5 separate regions of the Homo sapiens genome follow, and all the other regions are reported to be linked to region 3. The links are microRNA targets in miRTarBase. Many come from high-throughput screens and were not tested one by one. Region 3 holds a microRNA gene; each other region holds the end of a gene's coding sequence.
Evidence for each region. The annotated mature microRNA hsa-miR-5693 reads GCAGUGGCUCUGAAAUGAACUC and lies in region 3 at 3,493-3,514, opposite strand. An mRNA with a match to its seed (bases 2 to 7 or 8) in the 3' UTR can be bound and repressed. Matches are read on the target gene's strand: a 7mer-m8 pairs with bases 2 to 8, a 7mer-A1 pairs with bases 2 to 7 and ends in A, and an 8mer does both.

Region 1: the mRNA of PGCKA1 is a reported target of hsa-miR-5693. Seed matches in the 3' UTR shown: 7mer-m8 at 3,299-3,305.
Region 2: the mRNA of POPDC2 is a reported target of hsa-miR-5693. The part of its 3' UTR that is shown has no 7-base or 8-base seed match.
Region 4: miRTarBase lists BTN3A2 as a target of hsa-miR-5693. Seed matches in the 3' UTR shown: 7mer-m8 at 2,100-2,106 and 7mer-A1 at 1,116-1,122.
Region 5: miRTarBase lists TAS2R5 as a target of hsa-miR-5693. The part of its 3' UTR that is shown has no 7-base or 8-base seed match.

Annotation. Positions count from the first base shown.
Region 1 is chr4:37,588,868-37,595,563 of GRCh38, forward strand. It overlaps PGCKA1 (PDCD10 and GCKIII kinases associated 1), which reads left to right. Exons shown (of 4, transcript NM_001104629.2): 3 at 1-32; 4 at 1,221-4,643. The coding sequence starts at 1. The coding sequence ends at 2,133. It also overlaps a transcript of RELL1 not described here. Among named protein-coding and RNA genes, the nearest start is that of RELL1, 94 kb to the right of the region's middle. RefSeq lists enhancers at 969-1,469, 1,470-1,970.
Region 2 is chr3:119,643,307-119,648,423 of GRCh38, reverse strand. It overlaps POPDC2 (popeye domain cAMP effector 2), which reads left to right. Exons shown (of 4, transcript NM_001369919.2): 3 at 1-305. The coding sequence ends at 262. Among named protein-coding and RNA genes, the nearest start is that of POPDC2, 15 kb to the left of the region's middle.
Region 3 is chr13:51,345,084-51,351,779 of GRCh38, forward strand. It overlaps MIR5693 (microRNA 5693), which reads right to left and starts at 3,556; the gene lies at 3,484-3,556. SERPINE3 (serpin family E member 3) reads left to right here. Exons shown (of 10, transcript NM_001386375.1): 5 at 1,942-2,151; 6 at 3,130-3,328. It also overlaps a transcript of INTS6 not described here.
Region 4 is chr6:26,371,580-26,378,275 of GRCh38, reverse strand. It overlaps BTN3A2 (butyrophilin subfamily 3 member A2), which reads right to left. Exons shown (of 11, transcript NM_007047.5): 6 at 5,179-5,379; 7 at 4,980-5,000; 8 at 4,863-4,889; 9 at 3,903-3,949; 10 at 3,478-3,505; 11 at 1-2,479. The coding sequence ends at 3,909. Among named protein-coding and RNA genes, the nearest start is that of BTN2A2, 8.2 kb to the left of the region's middle.
Region 5 is chr7:141,789,670-141,796,365 of GRCh38, reverse strand. TAS2R5 (taste 2 receptor member 5) reads right to left here and starts at 6,149. Exons shown (of 1, transcript NM_018980.3): 1 at 4,999-6,149. The coding sequence starts at 6,004. The coding sequence ends at 5,105.

The DNA.
Region 1 (6,696 bases), not on the chromosome of region 3:
ATGGGGTGCAGGTGCTGTAAAATAATACAAAGGTAAAGCTGGAGAAATACTACTTCTAAATGGAGGAATTTGTGATGAGCGTGGGGTCACTTTTAAAGACCATGCGTGTATTCAGTGCATTTATCCAGCTTGGGGCATGATCAACATTGCCAACACATTAAGAGTTTGGAATTGTTATAATATCATTTAAAAGAACATGTGCCCTAGATTTTTTTAACTTTTTTTGCTCACTTCTCAAAGCATGTTGGGAACACCATCATTTTCTGAGGCTGAATTTGGTCTGGGTTTCTGAGGATGCCTGAAATGGCATCGCTGAAAATAAATCACCCCAATCACATATGTGCTTTTAATTTTGTCCACATTGCATTTCAGAAAATTGTGAGTAACGTGAACATAAACTTCTAACTAAGAAAAAGGGTAACTGATGATCTTGCTTTCTTAACAAATATACTGTCTTTTTAATCATAGTTCTATTCTAGACCTATATATAAATAAGCTGTATTCCACTGTAATCATACTGTGATGTTTGGCTTTATTCAAAAACTATGTATTGTAAGTATCATTCCTGTGACTACAGACTTCATATTTATCATTTTAGTGACTGCATAATATTCCACTGAGAGGATATACTCCTTATGGCCCTGTTAGTGGACATTTGTTTTATTTGTTTTTTATTTTAAAATTCTATGAACCACTTTGTATTTTACTTCACCCCTTACCCCTCCTTCCTCCTTTTGGCTCTCTTCTTAAGAGTATTTCAGGCAGAACCTTGTTTATCTTTTTCAAGACTGTCTCGCTCTGTCATCCAGGCTGGAGTGCAGGGGCGTGATCTCAGCTCACTGCAGCCTCCGCCTCCCAGGTTCAAGCGATTCTCCTATCTCAGCCTCCCGAGTAGCTGGGATTACAGGTGCCTACCACCTCACCCAGCTAATTTTTGTATTTTTAGTAAAGATGGGGTTTCACCATGTCGGTCAGGCTGGTCTCGAACTCCTGACCTCAAGTGATCCACCCGCCTTGGCCACCCAAATTGCTGAGATTACAGGCGTGAGCCACCAAACATTTTTATACCAACTATATCTATTTGATTTAGACATACTTATCTAGGTTGAAAAGTAATCACAGAAATTAAATTAGCAGGAATCGTAGAAAGAAGCAGGGCCTGTGGTAAAAAGCATTAATGATGGAGCAGACCTGACTGGTTTTCATTGTCTTTCCTGAAGCTATCTCTTTGATCCAGTTCAAGTGCCCTCTCCTGGCTATGTCAATGAAGTCAACAGCTGCAAGCTAGATGAAGACGACACTGATAAATTAAAAGGCAAATGGAGCAGTGAAGTCTTGGTGCAGAAAAATGACCCTCAGAGGCAGGGCTCAAAGAAGACTGAGAGCAGCAGCAGGACAGCTGATCCATGGGAGCCCTGCTGGCCTCACCAAGGGCCGCTCCCACAGGGGGACGCTGGAGGGGAACACCATGCCTGCGGTGTCAACGGCATCGGCCCTGCTGCCACTCCACAGCCCACTGGGAATTCCAGCCCCACCCAGGATGACAGGGGCTCCTGGGCCAGTACTGCAAATACTGTTCCCCCAACTCAACCCTTCCTGGAAGGAGGGGGCACCAGGAAACAGGACTGTGTGCTGCTGGCCTCAGAAGGGACCCAAGTCATGAGAAATGGAGACTCCAGAGCTCCTTCTGAGGCAGAAAGTTTTGCCTTGGAAGTACAAGACCATGTCTTCCAGATACCAGCCCCAGATTACCTTCAGCATTGGGGCCCAGCTGGAGACAACGTTGATCATAATGAAAAGGACTGTGTTTTCAAGAACCATACTGAGGATGAATCCCTAGAGGGAATTCAGCCCCCAGTGGGGGAGCATGGTTTGAATACGCCCTTCTCTGTGAGGAGAAGCTGGGATTCATTGAATGAGGATGTGGAAACAGAAGTTCTAAGCATCTGCTTTAATGAGAAGGGTCCTGTTCATGCCATGCCTGTGGTTGACTCAGGAAACAGGCAGGAGGATACCCATGGCTCCGATGGAGATGGGGATGGGGAGATTGTGGACGAGGATGCAGCGGTGGCGGAGGCCCTTGCAGCTTTAGAAGCTGCTACTGCAGGAGAAGATTTGGATGAGACTGATTAGGGGAGGGGATTTGCACAGGGAGGTAAGCTGGTGTCATGCTGAGCATGCAGATGCATTTGCTCCCTGGATGCATAGCAGGTGATTCTGCCAGCATGCACCAGTGCAGCCTTACCAGTTGTTTACATCCAGCATCTGTTCTGATTGTCAGCATCTGTCCCATGCTGCTTGTCACATATCTGGAGTTTCACTCTGTGTAGATGAGCTGTCATTCAGGACACTAGGAGAAAAATCTGAGTGGGTCATTGTGCCCATATCCACAGAAAATGCAGAAGTTGAACAGCTTGCTTGACAACCCTCAAACATCTTTGAGCACCTGGTACAGATGTTTATGAGAATACTCTAAGATCTCAACCCTTGATCCCAAAGGCACACAATCACAGAGCATTCCTTTTGACTGTAAACTGTTTACCTTGCTTTTGAGAGCCAAACATTGTACCCAACCTGGAAAAAGTAACTACCCCAATTAAAGTGCCTCATGTGTCCCCAGAGCATGGCTTAACTTCAGGGACAATCACCCAGGGAACTAATAACTAACCAGTTGTTCAACAGCGGGTTAAGCTCAGCAGTTTTCACAGTAGAGCAGAAGTCCCCAGGAAACAAAGGGTTAGTCATTAGCTGAGATGTTGATTTTAAAACACCTTGACCTTAACTTTTTTACATTATTACTTTTAAATCTCCTTTGGGATTGGGGAGGCTGGCCAAAATAAGTCTTAAAACTGCTTATGTCATATTTGGATTTTAAGTTCATGACATTCGGAACAGCAAAGCCATATATGCAATGTTTTTATGCCATTAAATGTCTGATTCCAATTAAAATATAACAACGTATGTGTCTTTCTAGAAGTCTTAACTCAAAGGTGGTTCTAATTTTCTCAGAATATCAGTGACCCTGGATGTTACTTTCAATGTAAAGAACTAATCTAGATGGCCGGGCGTGGTGGCTCATGCCTGTAATCCCAGCACTTTGGGAGGCCGAGGCGGGTGGATCACAAGGTCAGGAGTTCAAGATCAGCCTGGCCAACATAGTGAAACCCTGTCTCTACTAAAAATACAAAAAATTATCCGGGCACGGTGGCGGGCGCCTGTAATCCCAGCTACTTGGGAGGCTGAGGCAAGGAGAATCACTTGAACCTGGGAGGTGGAGGTTGCAGTGAGCTGAGATCGTGCCACTGCACTCCAGCCTGGGTGACAGTGCAAGACTCCATCTCAAAAAAAAAAAAAAAAAAAAGAGCTAAGCTAGGCACAGTGGCTCATGTCTGTAATCTGAGCACTTTGGAAGGCTGAGGTGAGAGGATTGCCAGGGCCAGGAATTCGAGACCAACCTGGGCAATTTAGCGAGACCCCATCTCTATGAAAAAAAAAAAAAAAAAAAGAGCTAGACTACAAAATTATACTCAAGGAAGGGACCGAGCTGGTTTGCAGAGCCATAGCTTTGGCTTTCTCTCTGTCAAACTTGATGCCATAACTAAATGTCCTGATCTTACCTCAAAGATGAACAAGCCCTCTCTGGATTTCAGCCTTCTAATTCACTGAAACAAGGACAACCATTCTAACGTAACTCAATGGAGAATTTAAAGGCATTAAGGATGCTCAAAACTATCTAGAAAAAAATAAACATGGAAGATGCTTTAGTTTGGTGTTTTGTAACACAGAATTGAAATCTGACTGAACTTCATTTGATTTCCAGCTTTGCCATGTGACCTTGGACAAGTTATGTATCCCTTTACCCATCTGTAAAGTGAGAAGAATAATTGTATGTGCTTGTAAAGGTTAAATGAGATGATGTAAGTGTTTAGCACAGTGCTTGGCACACTAGGCACTCAAAAATGATGTTTTACTAGTTGAAAACAATTCCTTTAACAAACATTTTTACATCCCCACAACTGAAAACTCTAAAACTGGGAAGTATGTATAATGTCATTATTTGACTTTGGCAATTATTTAGTATAAAACATGATTTCTGAGCCTTCCAGCACCTTTAAGGACGGCACCCTTACAAATGCTTAATGAGCCTATGGGTTTGTTTGGTACTGTAATGACAAGCCATCGCAAGTGACCTCTATATACAGGGTCACTCAGAGCCCTTAAAAAGATAAAGTCTTGGCATTGTTAATTGCATTAGAGGTATGTCTCCTTTTGTATTTAGTACACCAAATACTTAATATTTCAGAATGCTTATTCCTTCAATGATTTCCTAAGTGTATCAGTTGAGATTATGTTCAGTTGTATGGGACGAGTGTTTTATACAAATAGAGGCTTATTTACCTCTTATGTAAAAGAAGTCTGGAGTTAGTGATCCAGGGTGGTAGAGAATGTATCACTGGCCCGTGTATCAATGACCCACATATCAATGACCCACGTATCAATGACCCGCATATGAATGACCCATGCTGCTTCAATCATTTTGGTTTCCTTCTCAAGATCACTTTGTAGTCCATAATGGCTGCTGTGGCTTCAGTCATTACATTTGCATTCCATGTTGGAAAAAGAATAAAGGAATAAAAACCCCACTCACTCTCTATTAAGGACCCCACAGAAGTATAATTCATCCCTTCCACATTACTCTCTTTGGTCAAAATCTGGTCACTTGGCCACATCTAGCTGCAAGAGAGACTAGGAAATCGTCTTGCTAGTGGTGTGCGTGGCTTTGCCAAATAAACTCAGAATGCAGTTACTAAGAAGGGGAAATGGACAATGAGTTTCGAGGCGGTCAGTTTACAGTCTCTGCCACAGGAGGTCTCAAAACCCAAAAGCCTGGGATACAGCTGGTTTCAAAAGATTGGAAGATCGTGTGTACATTCAGTGTGACACCAAAGGGGCTTCCACCTTTGGTCCGGGGGAAGGAGGACTGGACAGCTACCGCTGCTCCAACTTCCCATTGATAACTCCAAACCGGACGAAAAGAAGAAATTCAGACAAAGAAGGGGTAGGGTAAGGTATCAGGGCAGACAAGTCTCTTTCTCTTACCCAGACACACACTTTCGCATTTATATATGTATATAATTTTACATCTTAGAACAGCTGCAGAGTTCACCATAACTGACAGCTCTGTAGTTTTAAAGATTCTCTTTTATGAATAACTGCTTTGAAAAGGTCGACAGATGGCCAATACTTTCAAGAGTTCTTTAAAAGTAATTCTGGCCCCTTTCATCTTTACTCCAGTATCCAGGATCCCCCAAAGGAAATGAAAGTAAAAAATCTTTAGGTTGAAAAGTAATTCCAGCTTTTAGCCTTATCTACCAGGTTGTCTAACAGTGAGCTGTCTGAGCACGCTTATGTGTGTAGTGTCTTCTTTCTGCAGCCTAGTGCCACCTCTTGTCAGAAAAGTGATGTTGAAAATAGCCAACCTTTTCAAACATTGTGGACAATATGAAAGCACAATGCACTCTGATTGGAAGGCACTAACTGTGATTAGGGGCAGACTTCACAGTTCCCCATGAACCTTAGGCAATTGCATCACGTGGATATTTACCATGTTAAATCCTGATTTTGAATTAAGATTATTTTATGTATATATTACATATAGGTTTCTTGAGCTAAGAAGTTAGATTTAACTTTTTACTGGGGGAAAATGAACTATCATATAAATATGAAATTAAATTTTTTCCCCTCATTGCCAAAGCAGATGTAGTGAATAGTTATAACTGGAAAAACCAGATACCCAAAAAAACGAAGAGAATTTTAGGTTTCTTACATAGCACATGCCCATCTGTCCATGCTCAGTAAGTGCTGGCCATTCGTCATTTTCCTCCCTCTGCCCCGCTCTGTCTCTCTGATTCTCTTCTCTTCCTACCTCTCCCATCCGTACCTCCAAGCAGGAGGCCTTAGAAAGAATGAATGAGACACCAGATGCAAGTGCAAGTGCAAAGATCTCCTGACTTCCCTGGTTTGGTCGTCTGTGTGCAACCATGCAGCAGATAGAGCACAGTCACTACTGCAGCACAGGATATAGCCTCCTTTCCTGGACTTGGACTTAACTCTTCATCAAGGGCACTGCTTTTCACACAACCAGGCTTTATGACGAAAACGTAGAAATTAATTGCTTTCTGGTCTTGTTTCATTTTTTTTCTCTAGATTAAACCTCATGCATTTTTAAATCCTCTATTTTGGAGTTGGTGACAAACACAGACAAGCTGACATCTGTTTTTCATGGTAAATCCTTTCCCTGTTAACTAATAGAACAATAAGTCATTCATTTATAGATTTACTAAATTTGTAAGTTTCTCATATGTATCAGGTTATACAAACCACACCTAAGTGGTCTGCTAACTTCTGAAGCACTCCCAGCCACTTTAAGAAACATTTTATGCAAGTCAATGTGTTGATCGTAGATGATGCTTACCTGCACATTTAGTCACTTGGAGTCAACTATTAGCAATTTTTTTCAACTGAAATATCTGTACTAAAAAAATGCGTTTGGCCTGAGATCTAAGTTAGTGTACGGCACAAGGGGGGAACTCAATACATATTTGTTGATTGAAAGAATACATAAAAGAAGTCTGGAGTTAGTGATCTTTTCCCGGTCTGGTTGGGGAGATATCATGCAGGTAGCCAGGATTGTGC
Region 2 (5,117 bases), not on the chromosome of region 3:
CGAGAAGGGTGATGAGGAAGTCTGTGAGCCAGCTGTGTCCCCTCCTCAGGCCACACCCACCTCTCTCCAGCAAACACCCCCTTGTTCTACCCCTCCAGCTACCACCAACTTTCCTGCACCTCCTACCCGGGCCAGGTTGTCCAGGCCAGACAGTGGCATACTGGGTGAGGACTCCACCAGTCTGGTGCTGGAGGATTTTGAGGAGGTGTCAGGATCAGAATCGTTTATGGATTATAGGAGTGATGGGGAGTACATGAGGTGAAGGGAGAACTAACATGGGCACAGCCACCGGCTCAGGATCCTATGTAAGTACTCAGAAGGCAGCCGCTGCACATTCCTGTCAATGGCTGGCCTTAACTCAGCTTGTTAGGGCAAAAAAAATCATTCGTGGAACATTTCCTCTTAGAGGACTCACAGAAAGTGGCATTAACCCAACTTTGAAGATAGCAACTCACTCCGGGTGCATGCAAGGCATGAAGGGATTTTAAAAACTCATTCGTTATTAACTTGATTGCATTTTAGAAAGTGGGCTGGTTGATACGTTGAGCAGGAAGGTAGATTGCTGTTTTTTTGCAAGTTTATTCTAATAGCTGAGGCCACAGCTGGGGCTTAAGGGGCTTTTATTTGTGGCATGCATTTTAAAAGAAAAAGAATGTGGCAGGGTTCTAATTCTGATTGCTTGTCTTTCCTGATACAGAGCCCGTCCTGGAAAGCAGTTGTTATTTAGCCTAGACTGGGCAGGCATCTCTGTTAAAACTGCATATTTTAAAGAGGATTGTGATTATGAGCTAATAGCTCGGGGAGGAAAATGTCCTCATCTTGCTTTCCTCTCACCCAGTGGAGAATGTGTTTGTTGATCACACAGACAGAGGACTAGATACTGCTATGATTAAATGTTACTATGATCAGATAGGTATATGGCAGCCTGGCTTTCCCCAGTCACCCACACCTGTGGGAGGTAGGATGTGCATAAATCCTGGAGGGCCTAACAGTGCGTGCAGGATTTCCCTCACAGAATTTCCCTCCCAGAGAGTCTACAAGAAAGGCTGTGCCCAGTGGTTCTGGGAAATTGCTCTCATGTTTCCCTGGCTGCCCTCATAATACTGTGATGTTTTTCTCTGTAACTCCACCCAACCATGATGTAGGCCTGAATTTCCTGAGGAAAATCCCATTGTTCCCAATTTGGAAGGCGCCTCCCATGGTTCTTCAGAAAGCACCAATAAATTACCTGAGAAACTAGCCCAGTGAGGAAGGCCTCCAGAGTACATGAAATGAATGAGTGAATGTTTGTCTATTTTGAAAAACAGGTTATATAAATGATGAAAGAGGCCATAGAGATGACTGATGAAAGGTTAGAGATTTAGTTTTGTAGATATGGAATTTACAATCTCCTGTGTTACCAGCATCCTTAGAACCATAGTTCAGCTCATTCTGAGGTAATTCCAAGGATCAATCTAACACCCCAGATCACTTTGTTGAGTTCCCCGAAGTGTGCATTGACAACTCTGATCACTCCTTTCCCTCTGTGCAGCTGTTCGCCTTCCTACTCGTTCATCCTGCATCCACGCATGCTCCTTATGTCCTATGGATCCCTCTTGGTCCAACTTGCCCATCCACCTATACACTCTCTCTTCGACTCACAGCAGCTCTCTGTTTTCTCATGTTGTTCTTCCTGGTTTTCTTCTCTTTTCTTGGTTCTATTTTTCTCTTCTTTCTTCTCCAATTTCTTCTCAGTCCTTGATTGCCTCAGTTTGATGTTCTGTTCTTTTTTCCTTTTCTTTCTTGAGACAGGGTCTCACTCTGTCACTCAGGATGGAGTGCAGTGGCATGATGTCGGCTCACTGCAATCTCTACCTCCAAAAGCTCAAGCGATCCTCCCATCCCAGCCTCCCAAGTAACAGGGATTACAGGCACATGTCGCTGTGCCTGGATAATGTTTAATTTTTAAATTTTTTTGTAGAGACAAACTCTCCCCATGTTGCCCAGGTTGTTCTCGAACTCCTGGGCTCAAATAATCCTCCTGCCTTGGTCTCCCGAAGTGTTAGGATTACAGGCATGAGCCACCATGCCTGGCCAGTTTGCTGCTCTTAAGTGTCCATTTTCTATGTCTTCTCAGTTCATTTCTCCCTCTTCACTTGTCTCTTGTTTTCTTCCATTTTATTGTTCATATATTTATCTCTCCTATTACCTCCTTTTTTCTTTTTCCCACCTTTTTTGCCTTGCTGTATCTATTCTTCCTCCTAAACACCCTGTACCCCCATCTTATTAGTTTTTAATCCTAACTCTTCCAAAGATCAGTACTTTTCCCTCTGCCTATAAAGAAAACCATTCAAGTGAAGGTGTAAAATCCCCAGCTTTAGGAATGTTTTCCAAACATCAGGAGGCAGGCAGCATGGTAAATGAGAAAGAGGCCAGGACTGGGAGTCCAAAGTCCTGGCTTCTATGTCTGGCTTTGCTACTAATCAAATATGTGACTTTTTGCAAACCATACCTCACTAAACCTTACTTTCTTCATTTGAGCGTGTTGGACCAGCTGTCCCCAGGAACCCCCTTGGATTGATCTGAGAAGGCAAGGATAAGTTTTTCAAAGGAAGAAAAGAGGAGTAGTCAGTCCGCAGTACAGTAGACACAAGCCCCAGGACATCTGAGTGTCTTTCAGCAAGAACTCTCTGTGATATTTCACTACAATTTCTCTGGCACCTTGGGACTCTCCTCAGCCCTTGTGGTGGTGGGTCTTGTTTAACTAGCAGTTCCCTCCATTCTATGCCTGTGAAGAATCTATCACCTACCATGTGATTACAGTGCAGATTTTTTTTTCCTTTTCCTTTTCTTTTTCTTTCTTTTTTTTTTTTTTTTTGTTTGAGACGGAGTCTCGCTTTGTCACCCAGGCTGCAGCGCAGTGGCGCGATCTCGGCTCACTGCAAGCTCCGCCTCCCGGGTTCACCGCCATTCTCCTGCCTCAGCCTCCCGAGTAGCTGGGACTATAGGCGCCCGCCACCGTGCCTGGCTAATTTTTTCTATTTTTAGTAGAGACAGGGTTTCACCGTGTTAGCCAGGATGGTCTCCATCTCCTGACGTGGTGATCCGCCCGCCTCGGGCTCCCAAAGTGCTGGGATTACGGGCGTGAGCCACTGCGCCCGGCCTACAGTGCGGATATTTTATGAGAGAGGAGATCACAACTCAGTCCCCAAGCCCTCAACCCTTAATACATACTATCGTATGAAATGCCTCTTTCCAAATTCAGCCTTTTCTAAAACTCAAGATGAGAAAACTGCTGATGAGGCTCACTTTCTAAAATACCGGAATTTGCAATATAGGGAGAATAGTTTTTCATGTTTCTTTGTTTAAGCAATAGAGAGAAAGGAAACTTATGTCGTTTACTTTTCAGGCCATAGAGGTTTTCAGAACAACTTGAAAACATGATCAAATTAGCCAAACTTCTGATAGTTTTCAATGTAGTCTGTGATCATGGGATAATTTAGCCTCAGTTCTTTTTCTGAAATTGTGTTTTGAATGTTTGATTTGACTTATTTACCATCAAACTTGCTATAAGGTTATTACTCTAATGAATAAGCATATTCCCTTAATTGGGAGCAATTTACTATTATTTCTTTCATAAAGTAGGGCACCATTCACCATCTATTTCCTGGCTCTTTAGTTATCAAAATGTTAAGCTCATTGCTATTCATCCCGGCACAGCACTTATATGAGAGGCATGAAGCTGGCTGAATTCTGCATCATTAGGAATGACACAGCCTCATCACATTGACACCAGTGCTTGTCTCTCACACCAATCCAAATTAAGACCAACTGAAAATAGTCAGAGTTTCCTCTGGAGCTCCTTTTTGAAGAGACATATGTTTTTTAGTCTGGTGGTACCCAAAATTGAACAAAAAATGGGTGCTGCTTCTCTTAATAGGCAAAACTATGCTGCAGGATAATGTATTCATGCAGGGTCTTCCAGCCAGACCCCAAATCATCCCTCCCTTCACTAGAATTTTTCTGTTTAATTCGATGGCCACTCTCCACAGGGATCCATTCTGTGTCTTATTACAGGAGATGCTCAATGAATGAGGGACTTATCTTCTAGAAATGCAGCTCCGAGGTAGTCTGTTGAGTGAAATAATGAATCCATTATCACAAAATAAATTGAAAGCTGTCTGACATTTGGACAATTTTTATTTTGTTTCACATTGTTCTGAAAACTATACTGTTTCTTTTCTCCCTATTATTTAAATAAGCAAATGATGAACAGATTACAAAATTGAGGACACTCGAGGTAAGGGAAGGAGCCCCTCGACAGGAGGATCAGGACATAGTACCAAGGGCAAGAGAAACGATTCAATAAACACTATTTACTATATATTTTAGGCATGGTTCTAGGTAATCACATGATAAGTAGTTGAAAGAACTGAAAATGTTTTATCTGCAAGAAAAGGGCAAGTGTAATATCTTCAAATTTTAGAAAGAATGTAAATTAGAATTTGACTTAATTTGGTGTAGTTCTTGTGGGCAGAAATTGAATTGAATAGGCTGAAAGTTATAAGAAGGATTTTAGCTCAGTATTGATACTGGATTGCTCATGGGTGGTGAGAGTTACTCATCACTGGAAGAGTTCAAGCAGGGGCCATAAGAAATCTCAGGGATTTTATAAGGTGATTCATGCTCTGGGAAAAGGATGCCTTGGATTATTGTGTCAGGGTAACTTCTAACTCTAGGATTCTGTGTTTCTAAGATCTGGACTCTAGTCTTGCCACTCACCTGCCATCAAGAACATGTTCCTCATCTGCAGGACAGGACCAAGATGGCTCTGTCTACCTTACCGGGTTGCTGTGAGGCGTGATTGTGATAAAATACATAAAGGCAGTTTTTAAGCTCTGAAGCACTAGTTAAATGTGTAGCGTATTTTAAGATTCTGTTGTATGTACAATTGTTTAGCAGTCTCTCTCTCTTTCTTTCTCTTTCTTTTATCAGAGATAGATGATTTTCCCTCTTATTTCCACCAGTTTGGCTTTTCAGGGAAGGTGGCAGCTGGCAGAATCCCCTGACAACAAAAGGTACAGCAAAAAGTGGAGGCCTAAAGAAAACATGTGCTAGCTCTTTAGCCCCTGAATAGC
Region 3 (6,696 bases):
CTGAGTGTTTAGTTTATTTAGTTAGCACTGCTCCCAGTTGATTGTCTCAGTTCACCCTCACAATAATCCTAAGGGGTAGGCGCTATTACTCTCCCCATTCTATAAATGGAGAAACTGAGGCACAGAAGGCTCAGCCTCCTGCCCAGGGTCCACAGGCCAGGATTCTAACCCAGGTGGTCCGGCTCCAGCATCCTTGATCATTTCAAAAGTTTCATAGCAATGTGGAGAACATTCAAGACCCAGTGTTGGTTAAAAAGCAAAATAGGATTGGGATGCCAAGGCGGGCAGATCACGAGGTCAGGAGTTTGAGACTAGCCTGGCCAACATGGTGAAACCCCGTCTCTACTAAAAATACAAAAAATTAGCCAGGCATGGTGGCATGTGCCTGTAATCCCAGCTACTCGGGGAGGCTGAGGCAGGAGAATCGCTTGAACCCAGGAGGCAGAGGTTGCAGTGAGCTGAGACTGCGTCACTGCACTCCAGCTTGGGCAACAGTGAGATTTCATCTCAAAAAAAAAAAAAAAAAAAAAAAAGCAGAATAGGAAGTGATATGTATACTACGACTGAATGGAAAACAGTAAGTGTGTGGACAAGGATGGCAGAATTAAATGCAAAAATTAACATCTTTTGTGATAAAGTTCTCTCTCATGCTCTTTTATTTTACCATGTCTTTTCAATTTACTTAAATATGTTTAATTCCCTGCTCACATCCTTGTGCTGCCAGGGCGTAAGGCCAGAGAAGCAGCTCCCAGTGCAGGCTGATTGTCCTCTAAGAAAAAGGGGCAGTTGGCTCAGTTGCTCAGAGCACAGAGTCCAGAGCCAGGCTGCTTGGGTTCAAATCCAAGCTTTCCATGGAGCTGCTAGGGTTCTATTTCAATGCAATCCACATTGCATTGGGTAACTGGGTGGATGGTGGCTTCACCCCTCATAAGTATGTGACCTTGCCCAACTTCTCTGAGCCTCAGTTCCCTCACCTGTGAAATAGGGAATAATAATAGAACTGTTAGGAGGAGTCGGTGAGGATTTGCTAAAGCACTTAGAACAGAGCCTATCACAAAGTGTGTGCATATTAAACAAATAAACAGCTGGGACAAAAACTATCCCCTTAAGGGTGGTCTGCCAGCTCCTCTTTCTGACACTGCATGAAATTTTAACTGCAGCCCTACAAAGACCATACCTTGAATATTGTTTTCTAAGCAAAGGCTCAGTGAGAGATTCAGCTCAGCAGCGGGGCAGGGTGGGGACTGGGGGCGACAATGTGCAGGATCTCCCATCACAGCACATACTCCTTCCAAGGGTCTGCCTGGGGAGGGAATGTCTAATAATTCCTAGGAAATGGCCCCAAACAGAACCAGGAGCAGCATCCCAACCTGTTCAGAAAAGAATAAAAAGCAGGGTCTTCAGCAACAGCTGGTTATAAACACATATCAATTTGCAATGAACATATTTTAATAAATACTCTACCAACCCAACTCCAGAGATGACTCACTGCCCCCACCTCCCCTGACTGGTCACCCAGGTGTCAGGACTTCTGAGTTCTCACTTTCCATTTCCCTCTCCACACCCTCATCCCCCAGCAGGGGTTGTCATTGTCGCCCCCATACCCAGCCCTACAGAGCCTCTGACTCTGGCCCTGTGAGGTTATCTTAAAGACTCTAGGTCTAGGATTTTTATAAAATGACCATATCGCTCAACAGTCCCCAAAAGTTGAGAGCAGCTCCTGGTGCCTTGGGTCCCTGACAGCACAAGGAGCTGAGACAGGGAATTAAATATTCTTAAGTAGACTAAAAAGATATTGTAAGATGAAGAGAGAGACCACCTTAAGCAAAAAGACCTGCATTTTCGCATTTTAACTCTGCACTCCTTGTCCGCACACACACTGGGTTCGGTTCAGTTTCAATGCACATTTAACCCATGGCCACCTTGCTTTCCTGCTTGCAGGTGGGGGCCCCAGTGAGGGCCCTGGTGGCTGGCCGTGGGAGCAAGTCAGTGCAGCATTTGCTCAGCTTGTGCTTGTGAGCACCATGTCCTTCCAAGGCACTTGGCGAAAGAGATTCTCCTCCACAGACACACAGATCCTGCCTTTCACCTGTGCCTATGGCCTCGTCCTTCAGGTCCCCATGATGCACCAAACGACCGAGGTCAACTACGGTGAGCTCTGCCCCTGCTGGTTTGTCTAAAGGGAGAGGAAGCCTGGGCCTGAGGGCAGGAGAGAGGAGGCCAGGTCCCTGCTCCTAAGGGATCGGGATGTGTTTCCGCAGGGTCCATCTGCTGGACTGGGCATGCATGGCGGAAGGAAAGACTAAGGTGCCCGGAGACTTTAGAGAGGAGTGTGGGACAGTGTGCTCTGACAGGACAGTGAGGACACAGATGTGGAAGAGAAACTCAGTTTCATGCCTGACATTTCCTTCTGCACTAGTAGAGTTTGGACCAAACTGCCACCCTGGCAGGCACAATAGGCCGGGATTGAATGGCTGCTCCTTTAAGATCGGGTACAGTAGTACCCTGTACCCTTATCCATGATTTTGCTTTTTTGAGGTTTCAGTTATCCGCATCAGAAAATATTAAATGGAAAATTTCACAAATAATTCTCAAGTTTTAAACTGCACGCCCTTCTGAATAGTGTGGTGAAATTTCCTGACGTCCTTCTCTGTTCCACCTGAGATATGAACCATCCCTTTGTCCAGCATCCCCAGGCTGTCTACAGTATGCCCGTTGGTCACTTAGTAGCCATCTCAGTCATCAGATCGAGAAAACATAGTATATGCAGGGCTCGTTACCATCCACAGGTTCAGGCCTCTACTGGGGTTCTTGGAGCATATCTGCCAAGGATAAGGGGGCACTACTCTATGTGGTTCTGCATGTGCCATCGTCCCCCCCCCCATACCCAGTCCTAGAGAACCTCTAACTCTGGTCCTGTGAGGGTATCTTAAAGACTCTAGGTCTAGGATTTTTATAAAATGACCATATCGCCCAACAGTCTTTGGCCTGAAACCGCCTCCTGAGGGTGAGGTGGATGCTCGGTTTTATTGTTTCCAGTCCTCTGAGCCAGCCTCTCTCAGGGTCCGACACTGGTTCATTCTCCTGGCTCCTGGGACAGAGCTGACCTCTGATCCACTGTACCCTCAGGTCAGTTCCAGGACACTGCAGGCCATCAGGTGGGGGTGCTGGAGCTTCCTTACCTGGGAAGTGCAGTGAGTCTGTTCCTGGTGCTGCCCCGTGACAAAGACACCCCCCTGAGCCACATCGAGCCACACCTCACAGCCAGCACCATCCACCTCTGGACCACCAGCCTGAGGAGAGCCAGGATGGATGTGTTCCTGCCCAGGTGAGCAGCTGAGTCCCCCTCACAGGTGCTGTGCAGCCAGCAGTCAGAAGAGCGTGGATTTGCACACAGGTGGTCTGCCTCCAGGGTCTGTGCTTAGCCACTGGGATGACTTGTTTAATATGTATCCCCAGAAGTTAGACCAAGAGGAAGTGACCCTAGAGTTTGAGTTCATTTCAGAGCCACTGCTGGCTAGCTCACAGCACAGACTGAAATGAACTAACTTCCCAGAGTCTTTCCAAGACAAGATATTCTGCCTTCACTGGGCTGGAATGGAGCCCCCCAGGACCCCCTGATCCAGCCCTAGGCTGGACCAGTTTTTGGAAAGGAAATGCTCGTGGTTCCCTTGTAGGAACGTTGCCCAAATCTTATCCCATCCTAAGAGTATACAACTGTCATTTTTCCAAAACCAAAGAGATAAGATGACTTACGTAATTGAGCAAGTACAGATAAAATTCTGATCAGACGCCAAATTAAGGCATAAAATTTTGACACTTTAAGTCTCTGTGCAGAAGGTTCTCATTCTTTCTAAATGGAGGTGAACTCTCCTTTAAGAAGACCCAATAGGTACAAATACAAATCAAAAAGTGAAGTGGTGGCATTCTATGTTGCTTTTTCAAAACAAAATCTATTAGCAAAACTCATAACTTTACAAAAAGACTCCTCTTAGGGCTTCTTTAAATGATGAGCTTCTGTGATGTATTTGAAATCAGAGTAAATTTATAACCATTTTTTGACCAGCATTAAGCAAGGAATGTTGTCCAGTAGCCACTAGATGCCTTGGCCTCTCTCCACTGCCTGGGCTTCCAGTAGGCAAAGGCAAAGTCCTTGGCAGTACTCCCTTGAGGAGTTAAAAGTAAATCTATGCACTAGAAGGAAAAAATACAAAGAGAGACCCAGTAAGTTAAGGGCCAAGGTCTAAAGTGAGATCTGGCATAACCCAGGGCAAAAGGTGCACTTAACTCTAAGGTAAAGTGTATCTCTCAAAACTAAATATTTGGACCCCAAACCAAAACCCAAATACTGGATATTTCAACAGATCTCTCAGGGAGGGAGCAGAAGCAACCCTAATCTTCCTATTATATTTGAGAGAAACTCAGCAAGGGAAGGAAGAGCAGCGTTCCGTGTCAAAAGTAGAGAGAAAAAGGAGGCTGGTGCGAGAATTCGCCACAACCTTTTTGGGTTTAAGAGACAGATGGTGGGACTCATCCTCGAGCAGTTCTTCCCTGGAAGAGACCCCGGGGAAATTCCCAGCTCCACTGAGAACTCTCCACCGTCCTGATTCTGCTTTTAGGAGTCTCAAACCCTCAAGCAGTTTGAAAACTGAAAAACACTGGCAGGCAGGGAAGGCAAGGCAAGGCAGAAATCTTAGTAACACAACTATTAGTTAGCACTTAACCTCATTCTGATAATTTTTTTTAAATCTCCTTAAGACTACCAAGACTGCTGTCCAAGGAGGATAGAGGTTTTTAGGAAAATGAAGTTATTTCACAAGTAAAACTAACCAAGTTTTTTTTGTTTGTTTTTAAGCTAGCTTTAAATCCTTTGGGGAACAAAACAAAAAAAGTAAAAACTCTCTTAGGTCTAGATTTAGGTATAAACTTTGGATCACGGTAGACACAAAGTCAGCTTTTAGGCAGGGATTTACCTCTCATTCTCTCAAATCACTCATTCTTCTTTTAGTATGACTTGCTCTGCAGTCAGCAGGCATTTTTCGTTTAACAAGAGCAAAAAAATTTTGCACACTGTGGGTAGCAATGCAAAATTGTGTGACTATGAGATGTGCTTTCAGGTTAGACATCACCAAGCAGTGCACTAGTAGATTCTGGACGAATTATGGTGTCTAGCTTCCAAAGTAACCTTTTATTTATAAATAAATAAAAAAAGTGCATAGGGACTGTTAATCTTCATGAGGGACGCTTAGCATACTAAAGGAATAATCAAGAAAACCAAGAATGTGTTAAGGGTTGTTTATAACCACAATCATATGATGTCCCACAAGAAAGACTAATAATGCCAAATATGTATGTAATGAATAAAACATTTGATTATTAGGTCAACATAGAAGGCTGAGCATGAGCATGTTTTGATATTAGATATAATATATATCTTCTTAAAATCCACCAGATCCCACATATTCAAAATGAGTTTTGCCCTTCCTCCCAGGAGCTGCTGATTATCATGGTGTGTGGTTTATGCTTTTCTAGGAGTGTTTCTTTTTTAAAAAATCAAGATATAATTCACATATTATAAAATTCACCATTTTAAAGTACACAATTCAGAGGTTTTCAGTATGTTCACAAAGTTGTGCAACCATCACTACTAATTCCAGAACCTTTTCATCACCTCAAAAAGAAACCCCATATCCATTAGCAGTCACTCCCAGCTCCCCTCCCCACCTCCCAGCAACCTCTGATCTATTTGCTCTCAATAGATTTGCCTATTCGAGAATTTCATGTAAGTGAAATTATACAATTACATATTGTACAATTATACAATATGTGGCCTTTTGTGTCTGGCTTCTTTGCATAATATTTTCAAGGTTCATAGTAGCATGAATCAATACTATCTTCCTTTTTATGACTGAATAATATTCCATTGTATTGATATAGTACATTTTGTTTACCTATTCATCAATTTATAGATATTTGAGTGCCTAGACACATTTTGGCTTGTTTTAACTTCTTGGCCACCAGAAACAATCAAGTGCACATTTTTTTGTGTATATATATTTTCAATTATCTTGGATATACACCTAAGAATGCAATTACTAGGTCATGTGGTAACCCTACATTTTACATTTTGAAGAACTATCAAACTGTTTTCCAAGTCACTGCACCATTTTACATTCCTACCAGTAATGTGTGTGGAATCCAGTTTCTCCACATCCTTGTCAACACTTGTTAATGACCATCTTTTTATTTTAGCCATTCTAGTTGGTGTGAAGTAGTATCTCATTGTGGACTTCATTTGCATTTCCCTAATGACTAATGAGGTAGAGCATCTTTTCATGTACTTGGAGAAATGTCTTTTTTGTAGAAATGTCTATTTCAGAGGTTTTTCCCATATTTAAATTGGTTGTCTTTTTATTATTGAGTTGTAATAGTTCTTTATTCTGGATACTAGTACCTTAACAGATATATGATTTGTAAATACTTTGTCATTCTGTGGTTTTTCTTTTCACTTCTCAATGGTGTCCTTTGAAGCACAAAAGTTGTTAATTTGGATGAAGCTCAATTAATCTATGTTTTCTTTTGTTTCTTGCGCTTTCGATGCCATATTATATTGAATAGACACCACTGTCTAGTTAGGGTCACAAAAATTTAGGTGTATGTTTTTTTTCCAAGAACTTTATAGGCTTAGCTCTTACA
Region 4 (6,696 bases), not on the chromosome of region 3:
TGACAAGCACTTGCCCAGTAGAGGGGATACAGTGGTGAGCAATAATAGTGATGATAATGAGGAGCAGTTTTCCCTAGCAGGCAGCAGTTGAAAGGAATATGGGTTTAACATCCACCAATGACCAGGAGTGGACAGATCCTTTTCCAGGAGACTGAGTCCATAGTGGGATTAAAAACATCCCTGTAATTCTTCTAGCTTCCTTCATCCAAATTACCAATATTACAGAGAATCTCTAGGGTATTTGCTCTGCCTGGAAACCTTGACTGAAGGAAGGCTGGCTCTGGCTGCACGATCACTTATCACATTTGTTGGGTGGGAACACATCTGTGCCCCATTATTAACTGAGTGTGGCCTCTAGTCTCTTTCAAAGTCACATGCCCTGTGGGAACTGCAACGTTATTCTCTCAACCAAGACACTCTGCAGAGCCAATCCAAGGAGTGCTGGGTCTAAGGCTCTGATAATCAGCTGGGAAGGAGTCCATAGGGGTCTTAACTCCACAACCACTCACAGTGATCTCGATCCTGGAGCTGTCCTGGGAAGGGAACCTCAGGGCTACATGTGGGCTCTTCCCATGCAGGAAAAATCAGGCTGGAAAAGAACGGGCAATTGGCCAGGGACTGAAGCTGAACATCTCCCAACTGCACAAATTACCGTGTGAGTTATGTAAGCTACTTAATGTTGCCCTGCCTCTGCTTCCATACTTGCCAAATGAGACTACCTGACAGGGTGTTGTGAGGATTAAAGGAGTGACACCCACCAAAGCTCATAACACAGCACTCAGAACGTTTTAAATTCTCCATTAATGTTAGTCATTGTTGTTCAGATCCCAGCTCTGTTGTTCACTATTCCTGTCTGCTTTGTAAAGTCAATACACTTTTCTACACCCCAGTTTCCTTATCTGTATAAAGGGGCCAATAAGGTGGCACCAAACTCAAACAACTGTCCTATGGAATAATTGAATGAATATCAGTAAAGTGCTTCAGTGTGTGCCTGTAGCTTTATGGTTCTGACTGGCTGTTGTGGAGGGTGAGACCCTTAGCTCCAGGCTGGGCAGGGAGAAGCAGAGATGTTACTTCAGCCTGAGGCTCCCCACTTTCATTAGCTAAGCCTGGGGTCAGTGGTATCTCCAGGGAATGATCAGGCACTAGGTCGGGATCGGGGGAACTCTCTACTTTTGGTATTGGGCAAACGGTCAGGGCAGTGGGCTCCAAGGTCAAAATTCTGAATACAGGATACAGAGGCTCAGAGGAAGAGGCGTGCAGAAATGTGTAGATATGAGATCCATCCGTGGCATTGTAGAACGAGATATGTCCAGTCTCATAGTCCAGGATGACCCCCACTTTCCTAGGAGGCTCAGGAAGTTTCAGGTTGGTTCTGGGCTCAGTGAGAGCCCGATACTTATTCCCATCAGTCAGGCCCATAGTCCAGTATCCGTTCTCCGGTGTCATTTTGACCCAAACTTTTTTCCTCTCCACGTTCTTACTACATACCCCAATATGCCACTCTTTTCTGTCCCCCACTTCCACCTCCCAGTAGTGTCTCTCTGACATGAAGCTTTCACAGCCAAGCACACAGTAACGCCATTCAAATCTCTCAGGGTTGTCTGGTAGGTCATGGGGCTCCTCAGCACGCTGTACACTCCTCTGGTCCTCAGAAACAAGGAGGATGGCATTTGCCATGTCTGGATACAGAATTACATCTGCTGCAGAGAGTTTGAGGAGGTGTCCATGGGGTCAGCCATTTTTCCTGGATTTAAGAGCCACAGCATGCAAGGCTTGGGCCATGCTGAGGAGGTCCTTCCAGAACCCCGTGTCCCTAGCCTGCCCTGAATGTGATTCTCTCATCAATGTCATTGGTGAAAGCCCCAGGGGTCTAGTGACCAGAGGGGAAATGAAAGTAAGGTCAGTATCTGCCTAACCCAATACCCTGATGCGGCCCCAAGAAGCAACAAGGATCCTCTTTCTACATTTTTGTTGTTTCCCTCCCCACATTGATTCTGCCCACTGATGCTTTATACTCAGAGGTTAATTTTCTTTTCTTTTTTTTTTTTTTTTTTTTTCTTGAGACAGAGTCTCGCTCTGTCTCCCAGGCTGGAGTGCAGTGGCGTGATCTCGGCTCACTGCAAGCTCTGCCTTCCGGGTTCATGCCATTCTCCTGCCTCAGCCTCCCGAGTAGCTGGGACTACAGGTGCCCGTCACCATGCCCGGCTAATTTTTTATTTTTTGTATTTTTAGTAGAGACGGGGTTTCACCGTGTTAGCCAGGATGGTCTTGATCTCCTGACCTTGTGATCCGCCCTCCTCAGCCTTCCAAAGTGCTAGGATTACAGGCATGAGCTGCTGTGCTGGCCCTCAGAGGTTAATTTTCAATCTTCACTCGACCACTCGTGAGCTAAATGAGTTCCCCTTTTCTGCAGTCTATTTTTCCATACATCCAATTTATTTAACAAGGTGGAGCCTCATCTGAAGCATTTCCTCACCTGAAAAATGGGGATAAACATATGAATCTCTAGCGCTGTAGAAGGCAATCATATTATTTACTCAGCCCACAGCAGGCCATGAAGGAAGCTCCTCATCTTCCTGATAGCTGCAAGGCCGTCTCTGTGCTGGGCTCTGTGTGGGGCCTTATATGCCCTAGATTCACTCTCCAGCCTTCAGCTTTCTCCACCCTCTTCTGGACCCCAGGAATCTGTCCTCTATGGACAGTGCCACTGGGCTCCCTTGTCCTCTGGTTTGCTGCTGTGTTTGGCCAATGGGAGGCCCTGATAGAAGATTAGAAGGAGAAAGAAAGGAGATACACACCGTTTAATTTCCTGCTTCCTCCCTGCCAGCAGCAGCTGGTGGTGCTCTAACAAGGCCCGAGGACTCTTCTCAGGAAGCTCCCTCGTTAAGCTACCTCTTTCTCTGGGTTCCAGTAATTGCCTCCCCTTTTTAGCCCTCCCAGGCTAGGGGTGGAGACAGCTCCCCACTGTTGGGAACCATGGGGGCACTGCACTTTTCCTTGTTGCTTTCCCTTAACCCTTCTTTCTGGAAACCTTGTCCAACTACCCAGTTTGAGCTCACCATCTATTTCTTGCTAGGTTTCTGCCAAGCATGTTCATTATTCCTTCAGTCTTCACCTCAACCCCCATGAAAAACAGATTGCAATCATCATCTAAAAATGTGGAGGCCAAAGCTTGGAAGCATTAAATCCTTTGAGGAGATACAGGCAGTAGGTGGCATGAGAAGCCTGGGAAGGACAAAGTTCTTTGGGCAGGCATCACCTCCTCTCCTTGGCATTTCCATCCTCACTCTCCCTGCAGTATTACTCAGTGTGTGTCTCCTTCCCTTCACCTCCACCCTTTATGCGTCTTCCTACCCACGAAGGAAGTCAAGGGAACTTTTCTGCTCCAAATCACAAGAGTTGGAGAAGAAAAAAGGAAAAAGGAATATAGTCCCTCAGGTTGTTGGTCCAGGGAACATGCAGTGATTTACTCACCAGGCTTGAAGAGGGCCATTTTTCCATTCTGAAAGGAAGGAGACACAGATAAGAAAAAGGTCAGTATTTTTGTACTTTTCCCACTCCATTCTCCTCTCACTACATGTTTTCTCTCCTTTTCTTTAGAGTCTCTTCCAGGGTCCAGCTTCCCTCCTCTACAGCTCTGATGGATCAGAGGTGGCACCTTCTCAAAAATGTCAGGCTTGGCTCCCTGTGTCATGGGGGGTGCAGGATGCATGGCCAGGCTTTACAAGGGGGTGTGCAGGATCAGGAGTTTCTCAGAGGCTCCAGAAAAGCGGAGGTGAACCCCCACCACACAGAAATTGAGTCTTTAGATTAGATCTAATTAATCCAGCTGAGAACATCCACGGGTCACAGTGGAGAAAAAGTTGAAATATTCAGGGCATGTGACCCAGCAAACTTACAGAGCATCAGGCTGACTTATTGGTATCGGACGAAGACTCCTCTCCACCTACAATGAAAGAAAGGTAGAGGTGTCACCAGAACTCTGCCTTTTCTGTGTTGGCCCCTTCCCCTTCTTTTTGCATCCATCTAGTCTTTTTTTTTTTTTTTTTTTTTTTTTTTTTTTTTTTTTTTACCATCCCACCCTTCCCCATGGTCTCCATCTTCAGGTACAATTCTTTCTTCACCTCTTCTTAATATCAAGTCTGGGAACATCGGTTGAACGCTAGTGGCAGGGCAGGCACTGTGAGAGTTCCTTCCCAATGGGGTCCAGCTCATCTGTTTTGAATGTGTACCTGGGCATAGGTGTCACCATGTCTATATGTGTATGCCTAGGAGTACAAGATTCATCCTTCTCAATCTGTATCATTTCGTACCTTGCTCTAAAAAGAATTTGGGAAATTTAATGAGCAATTTCAGGGACTAGTTTTTGAAAGCAGTTATGATCTATCTGTACCAACTGAGCCACTGTAGCTACTCCTCTTTATTAGACACACTTTTCTCCCTCCCTCTCTCTTTTCTGATTTTCTTATTTCTTAAATCTTCCATTCTTGTTTTCCTTTCAACAGCCTCTAGATTATGGGAAACAACAAGTAAGTTTCCTGCCATAGAAAATGCACCTCATCCTTCTCTTCCCTCTTCCTTTTGAAGTGTACCCCTGGATATTCCTCAGTGCTTTTTAGAGCTTAAGGGTCTGTAGCCCCTAGTACAAAGAGATTGAAGACCTCTTTTTTTTTTTTTTTTTTTTCTAGAGAGAAAAAGCACTGGGTGGTTTCTCCAAAGAGCCACACTTGTTTTCTTTTTCTGGGTAAAGGGATCCAAGACCACTTTTCAACCCTGGGCTATGACTTATGGGCTGGAAAATAATGAAGCAGAGAGAGAGTAACAGATTTGAATTCAGAGAAAATGTCAAAGCCACTCACGAGTCAAGTACTGGATTTTTTTCCTCTCTGCAATGGAATGAACAGGGAAGAGTCATCAAGGTGCTCAAAGCGAGGATAGGAAGACATGTCTGGATCTCTGGGGGAATGGTAACTTACTGAGTTCCTCCTGGAGGCTCTCTGGAAAATAACCAAAAAAAAAAAAAAAAAAAAAAAAAGATGAACTGTTATGGGTGAGGTTGGTGTTTCGGGAAATAAACCTTAAACATGATGCAGTGCCAGGGTAGGGGAGAGAGGTGAGGTTTTCAGGCTGGGGCATGCAAGCCAAGAGCTTAGATTCTCTGCTTGCGTTGGATACCTCTTAGGCTTATTTCCCGCTCTGTTGCAGCATATCCCATTTCTTTCATCTCTTGCTCACTTTCTATCTCACTGGACAGAGCAGTTATTTCCTTCTGTTGTCTCCACAAGAAGTAACTGGCTCCGGCGAGAAGCAGCAGCAAGATAGGCAGGGTCCCTGCCAGGGCTGCGATCCAGGGCTGGGCGCTCCTGAAGAAGGGGTCTGCGAAGGGGAGAGCTGTAGGTCATGGGCGCTGGTGCGCTCAGCCTCCCCAGCCTGCAGCACCCCAAGCTTTAGCTGCTCAGCTCAGGTCGGGGGTGGGGAATCTATCTCATGAGGTTAAATAAGGATTCTCTCCCTAAAGTCTCAGAGGACTATAGATAAGACTTTGGTAAACCCTCACTACAAGCTACTACTATTACTTATCTTGAGATGTCTGCCTCTCACATGGAAAGTAACTTGAGCAAAGTCATACACATTTTTTCTAAATATTTTTTCAATAGGTAACACATTTACATCGTTCAAAACTACATACACATAAAGTCACGCAACTCTCTCATTCACCCTGTCCTCCCTCCCTCCATGTATTAACTTCTTAGTCCACTTAATATGATGCTTAGGAACATAACCTGTGGAGTCAGAGGGTATGGGTTTCAATGCTGGCTCCCCCATGTGACTAGCAGTGTGATGTTGGACTACTTACATAACCTCTCTGTTTGTAGTGGCCTAATCTACTAATGTAAAATGAGGGTAATGATAATACCTATTTCCTGAGGTTAGAAGAATTGAATTAATACTTATAAAGTGCCTGATGTACAGTAAGTGTTACAAAATTGCTTGTTGAAGTTTAAAAATGTAAACTAACCCAATTGAGAACTAAAAAAAAGTAAATTAAAATATATTCTTATTTTTCCTCTTGTTTAAACTAAAAATAGCATTCTATACACGTCCCTCTGCATCTTGCTTTTTCTGTGTAAAGTGTATCTTGGAGATCTTTCCATATTAGTATAGAGAGAATTGCTTCTTTTTCCTTTTACAAACTGTGCAGTATTCCCTTGTATGGAAGTTCCCTGGCAGTGAACATCTGCACAGTTTCTAACCTTGTGCAATAGTAATCAGTGCTATAAGAAACCTTTTACAGGCCGGTTGCAGTGGCTCACGCCTGTAATCCCAGCACTTTAGGAGGCTGAGGCGGGTGGATCACTTGAGGTCAGGAGTTTGAGACCAGCCTGGCCAACATGGTAAAACCTTGTCTCTACTAAAAATACAAAAATTAGCTGGGTGTGGTGGCACATGCTTGTAATCTCAGCTACTTGGGAGATTGAGGCAGGAGGATCACTTGAACCTGGGAGGCAGAGGCTGCAGCGAGCTGAGATTGCACCACTGCACTCAAGCCTGGGCAATAGAGTGAGACTTTGTCTAAAAAAAAAAAAGACACACACACAACGAAAAACAGAAACCTTTCACATGGATCATCTCATACAAATGCAAGCTTATCTATCAGATAAATTCCTAGAAGTGGAAGTTTGGATCGATAAG
Region 5 (6,696 bases), not on the chromosome of region 3:
GAGTCATCTCCAATTCTATGCCACATTGACTCCTTTAATTCATTTGTGAGTATTGACATCACAATCTCTCCAAATCCTTTAGTTTCAAGATTTTCTTTGATTGTTCAAATATTTCAGAATTTGCTCACTAACCTTATGATAATCAACCACTGAGCCTTCACTGACATTTTTAGAATTAACTCTCCATTTATAATTAATATAAAATATGTTCCTAGCCAGAAAAATATTTCTAAACTTTTCTTCTTGGTGTTACTTGAAAATAACAAAATATTTACTAGAATAAAATGTCATGAAAAATCTTGTTCTGTATTCTCCTGAGAAATGTCAATCTGATTCTTGATCTGTTCTTTCAAAATTTTGTAAAATTGCCTGTCTTCGATATTCTTAAATCTCTACAATGTGTTTAAGTGTGACGAATTCCTCCCACTTTATCTGTCTTCTTTGACACCCCTTGAGCCCTTTTAGTCTTTTTTCATCGTTAATGCAATTCTTGGTCATTAATTCTTCAAATATTTCATTCCTTGTGCTTATTTTTTCCATCTCCTTCTGGGGCTCCAATCACACCTATGAGTGTCCTTTTATTTCTGTGTGCCATATTGCTTTGCTTTTAAATTTCCCATCACTTTATTACTTTGCCATATCTCCTGCGAGAGTTCTAGAGCTGGCCTTCCAGTGCATCAATTCCACACCAGGAGCTGTACCCATTCTGCTGCTTAATTCAATGGTGGAATAATTTATTTCACCTAATTTAAAAGTGCATATTTCAGAAGCCAAAGGGAAACCAGGCTTTTCCTCACCCCAGGGCCTGTCAGCTAGGTTAGGCCTGTGATCTAGAATCAGCCAGCCAAAAATCCCACCCAGGATGGCTCGAAGAGACACAGTCTCAGAGGCAGTGGCAGTGTCAAGAACACAATGTTAACAGCTGAACAGGAGAGGTGGTGCCAGCATCAGTCCCTGTAGTGTGACTTGATTGTGTTCTTGTTTATTTAACCCCTCTTGGTTCCCATTCTGAGGTTGACTCTCCAGCCTTCTCCCTGGTTCTATAATCTAGCCAATTTCCTTTTGATAAGTGTACTTTCTCCTGAAGTCATATGAAGTTGTTTATAACTGATACCACAGGTGACAGGAGTTGGGATATGGGAGAAGTGCAGGACTGGTGAAGCACTAATTTCTTCCTCCTACATAATCGGGACTCTGTGGATACTGTCATAAGGCATGGTTCAAAAAAGCAGTGTAGAAAATATATTACTTACAATTGTAAAAGTAATGACTGTTAGAACAACAAAATAAAACTAATCAATTTAGGAGAGGAAAATGGATTAGGGGCAAAATGAGATAATCCCCAAACCTTGATGAATGGAACTCAAAGGCTACAGTTTAAAGCTGATAAAACAAGTAAGAGAGCCAAAATCTTACCATTCAGAGTCGTAAAAAATAACCACTAAAAGAACTAACACAAGTGATAAGATACCATTATATCCAGGCAGTGGGACTAATAATAGAAGGTGGGAGGGAAAAACGTTGCTGTTCATTTTCTACCTTTCTGTCCTGTTCAAATCGTTTTTAGCCATGCTCACATATCACATTTTTAACATTTCACGTCTCCTCTCGGCTACACCACCACAGAGCATATCACATAATTAAATGTAAGGCCATTAACATCTACACACACACACACACACACACACACACGCACACATGGATCCAGCTGCAACTCTAAGAATGCAAATTATAAAAGATTCAATTACATAGGAATCAATTCAAGAGTATATATTTGCCTTCCCATTTGTTTTCTTTGCTAAAACACAAAGCAGTCTCATACGCATCATAAGGTAAATTGTGTACAGAAAAAGAAGGAAATCAAATCCCAAAAGGTGATGTGGAAAATGCAATAATTTTTCCTGCTTTATTGAGGAATGATTGACAAAAATGGTATATATCTACAGTATGCAACATGATGTTTTGACATATGTATACACTGTGAAATGAGTACCACAATCAAGTTAATATATCCACCACCTCACAATTATCTTTGTTGTTGTTGTTAGTGAAAACATTTAACATCTACTCTCTTCACAAATTTCAAGTATATAATACGGTTCTATTAACTATAGTCACTATGCTGTACATTAGCTCTCCAGAGCTTATTCATTCTTCCTAACAGACACCAAACATCTCCCTATTTCCCCCACGTCCCAGGCCCTGGCAACCACCATCCTACTCTGCTTCTGTGAGTTTGGCTTTTTGAAATTCCACACATCTGTGAGATCTTACAGTATTTGTCTTTCTGTATGTGGCTTATTTCAGTTAGCATAATGGTCCTCCTGGTTCATCCACATTTTTTCAAATGACAAGATTTCCTTCTTTTTTAAAGCTGAATAATATTCCATTGTGTGTGTGTATACATATATACACATACATATGTATACTACATTTTTTTATCTGTTCAAATGTTCAAATGTGATATTTGAGCATGGCTAAAAACAATTTGAACAGTACAGAAAAGTAGAAAATGAAACAGATACACATACATGCATACACTACATTTTCCTTATCTGTTCATGTGTTGATGGACACTTAGGTTGATTCCATACCTTGTCACTAAGAAAAGCAGATCATAAACTTTGATCTGTTGTGATTTTGGATCTTAGCACCCAGGCATCCCATCAATACCAAATTTGAAAGATTAGTTGCTTATTGCATGTGTGTAAAAATACTCATAAACTTGAGGGAAGTTCCACAGGCTAATCCTAGTTTGAAGTCTTACAAGTATGAACAATGAGATACTTAGGATTTACTGGAAAGAGCACAAGACTCGGAGTCAAAAAATTTGGGTCTGCTCCATCTGCATTATTTACAAGTTCATGATCCTGGGCAAACCATCACTCCAGCCTGAGTTTTGTCACCTGTGAATTGGGGATAAAATTGGTTACTGCATAGAGTTGCTATTAAAATCAAATGAGATAATGGACTATATATGAGATTGTCTGGTAAAATGTAAAGCCCAATACAAATGTTAAATACTATTGTCACTATTACAACAATTGGTCACAAAGGACATCTGTAAAAAAAATAGAAATGGTATAATGAAAATTCATCCTACTAACAAAAATATAACCAAGCAGAAGCACCTTTCTATTTAAAAAGAATGAATATGATCCTTCCCAGGACATAAAATATGGTACTTGACCTCACACAACTCACAGTGACAGTGGAACCAATCTCCCCCTGTGTGATGACTAATATCCACATGTGCCTAGCATGTACCTCAATTCTCAGATTCAGGTAAGAAAAAGATATGTTTGAGAGAATAGATTAATGAAAGTAGATTAGTGTGATCCATAGGAAGTGAAAAAAAAATATTTAAGAATGCCAAGTGTTGTCCTTTGGATTTCAGATCCCCCTGGAACTGAAACAAAGAAGGCTAGAAAGAAGGAAGAGAATAAGTTGTGTAGAAGGGTCTGTAGAAAGAGGCATGGGGTTCCAAGGAGGGAAGGACATTAGGAAAGTAGCATGTTGTAAAGGAAAGAGCCCTGCACCAGGAGTCAAGAAACAGCTCTAGTCCCAGCACTGCCACAGGCTCTCTATGAAACCCAGGGCAGGCCACTGCCCCTCTCTGGGCATCAGTTTCTCTACCTACAATACAAAGGAGGCATTGTAAAACCAGTTAGCACAGCTATTCAGTCATTTACAAAATATTTATTAAGCGTTTATTATGCAATAGGCAGTGTTCTAGTCACAGAGACGTGGGAGAAAATAAAAACAGACACAGTTCCTACTGCCATGGATCTGGCATTCTAAATGATCTCCCTCCAACTCAAAGACCTGGCACACTAGAACTCTGACTGTAGGCTGTGGTGAGGCCACAGTAGACAGGCAAAATGGCTAAATGACTGAAGAGCAGACAGCGTGACCTCTTCAAAGGCAGTCTATTTTTTTTAAGCAGAATCAAGTGCCCCTCATTCTCATATTGCCCCACTTCAGTTCCTGGGCCTTGGAGCTTAATACAGATCATGGCATCCAACTGACTTTTATTCTGCTTTTTTTTTTTTTTTTGAGACGGCATCTCGCTCTGTTGCCCAGGCTGGAGTGCAGTGGCATGGTCTCGGCTCACTGCCATCTCCACCTCCTGGGTTCATGCCATTCTCCCGCCTCAGCCTCCCGAGTAGCTGGGACTACAGGTGCCCGCCAACACACCAGGCTAATTTTTTGTATTTTTAGTAGAGATGGGGTTTAATCATGTTAGCCAGGATGGTCTTGATCTCTTTTTTTTTTTTTTTTTGAGACGGAGTCCCGCTCTGTCGCCCAGGCCGGACTGCGGACTGCAGTGGCGCAATCTCGGCTCACTGCAAGCTCCGCTTCCCGGGTTCACGCCATTCTCCTGCCTCAGCCTCCCGAGTAGCTGGGACTACAGGCGCCCGCCACCGCGCCCGGCTAATTTGGTCTTGATCTCTTGACCTCGTGATCCGCCCGCCTCAGCCTCCCAAAGCGCTGGGATTACAGGCGTGAGCCTGATTTTTATTCTGAAAGCCAAGGCTAGGGCTCAAAGAAACTTCCAGAAATATAAAGATGTTTTGTTTTGTTTTTCAGTTAGATAATTAGATACATTACAGCAGAGAAATGGGGAAATTATTTGATACTTTTTAAAAAGCATATCTAAAATGACTAACATTAATGTATAGGTAAAATTTCATAAAAATTAATGATCACTATAATTGTTCCTAATCTCTGTTTTCTATACTAGGAAAAACACAATTTATATATGAATTTTTGCTATATGTAGACAGAATTGTTCCTAATCTCTGCTTTTTATAATAGGAAAAACACGATTTATATATGAATTATTTGCTATATGTAGAGAGAATATAATACCTCTTTTACCAAACATGAAGCCCTAGCCTTGATTTCTGTGGTACATTAAAAAAATATACTTTGCATTGCCAAAAGAGACATAGTATTGGGTTTTGATCCGTATTTTCTGTTGCTCATTCATTACATTGGTGTAAAAGAAGGAAAATCTTAAAAGACATGGAAAGCAGCTCCCTTATAGAGAGCTATCAAAAGAGCGTCCCAAGAGTGTCCTGACCACACTTTTCTTCCCAGATCATGGGCCCCAGCATCTCCGAGCACACACTGTCTTCCACAGGATCTTCTGACAAGTCTGCTTCACCCTAGGAATCCCCATGATCAATATGAGAGAATGAAGAGAAGGATAGGCTGCCATGAGTGTCTCCCAGATGAAGACACTGGTGAGATCAGGAGGATAAGTCTTGGAGGTGATGGAGAAGGGGCTGGCCATGATATAAACCAGGTGAAGTAAGAGGAAGCAGCCCAAGGACTTCAGCGCAGTGATGTGAGCCTTGGCCCGGACATCCCTCCTACCAGCTGAATGGACCTTCATCTTCTTGTGGTGTGTATACAAAGAGACAATCAGCATCCCAGAGGAAACAAGAAACACCACTAAAGGCAAATAACTTCCTGAATTGAGCTGAAATGCATACAGGTACTGCCAGCTTTCAAAGGGATACCGAATGCTGCTGTTTCCTTGGGGAGGATGATAGAATGTTAAGCCAATTTGGACTGTAAGTAACAAATTGATTATAAAGTAGCCCAGAAGGCACCAGAGACTCAGGTTATAGGCCCTCTGCTTCAGCCACAAGTAGGCCGGGCGATCGAAGGTCGTGATCTTCTTGCAATAGAAGACACTGAGGAAGGTGGCAAACCATAAGCTGGCCTGGCTTACCAGGACCCAGAAGATACTAAGATAGCGAAGCCAACGGCTGCTCTGGAAAAGTGGAAACAAGCTTAAGTCCAAAATGATCAGCCACTGCAGGAGAAATCGGCAGCCAGCCAGGCCCAGGATAATGAGGTTATATGAGGACCAGTTGAATTTTCTGATCCATTCTCTAAAACTCCAGACCACCAGGCTTCCATTTCCAATTAAACCGATGAGAAATTCAACCACTGCCACCAGCATCAGCAGTCCTAGGCCAGCGCTCAGCATGGCTGGGGAGAGGAGGCTCTCACTGCTCCTGGCTGAGGTCAGATCCCCTGGTAGTGATAACACACCAGGGTAAATTTTCACACCACAAAATCTGGATTTGGCCTCGTCCTTCCGTAATCTGTCTTCAAGCGAGACTGAACAGCTGTGATGAGGAACAGAGAGGTTGGAAGTTATGATACCATCTGTATTTGCATCTACATGAATGAACCCTGAGTGTAGAACCAGAGATTGCAAACAGTACCACAGACACCGGCTCTCCATCTCAAAGGTTTTGGGCCAAAGTCTAGACACCAGGGTATAACGTAACAAGGCCCCTCAACAAGAAAGACCAAATCAAAACATGCTCAGGTGCTATACAGTGCCAGTTATGAGCTCATATGCTATATAAAAAAAGAAATTTTATTTTCATGAAAAGAACACTGGGCCAGGCATGGTGGCTCACACCTGTAATCCCAACACTTTGAGAGGCCAAGGCGGGTGGATCACCTGAAGCCAGGAGTTCGAGACCACCCTGGCCAACATGGTGAAGCCCCATCTCTACTAAAAATACAAAAATTATCTGGGCGTGGTGGTGGCTGCCTGTAGTCCCAGCTACTCGGGAGGCTGAGGCAGGAGAACCACTTGAACCCAGGAGATGGAAGCTGCAGTGGGCCAAGATCGCGCCACTGCACTCCAGCCTGGGCGACAGAGCA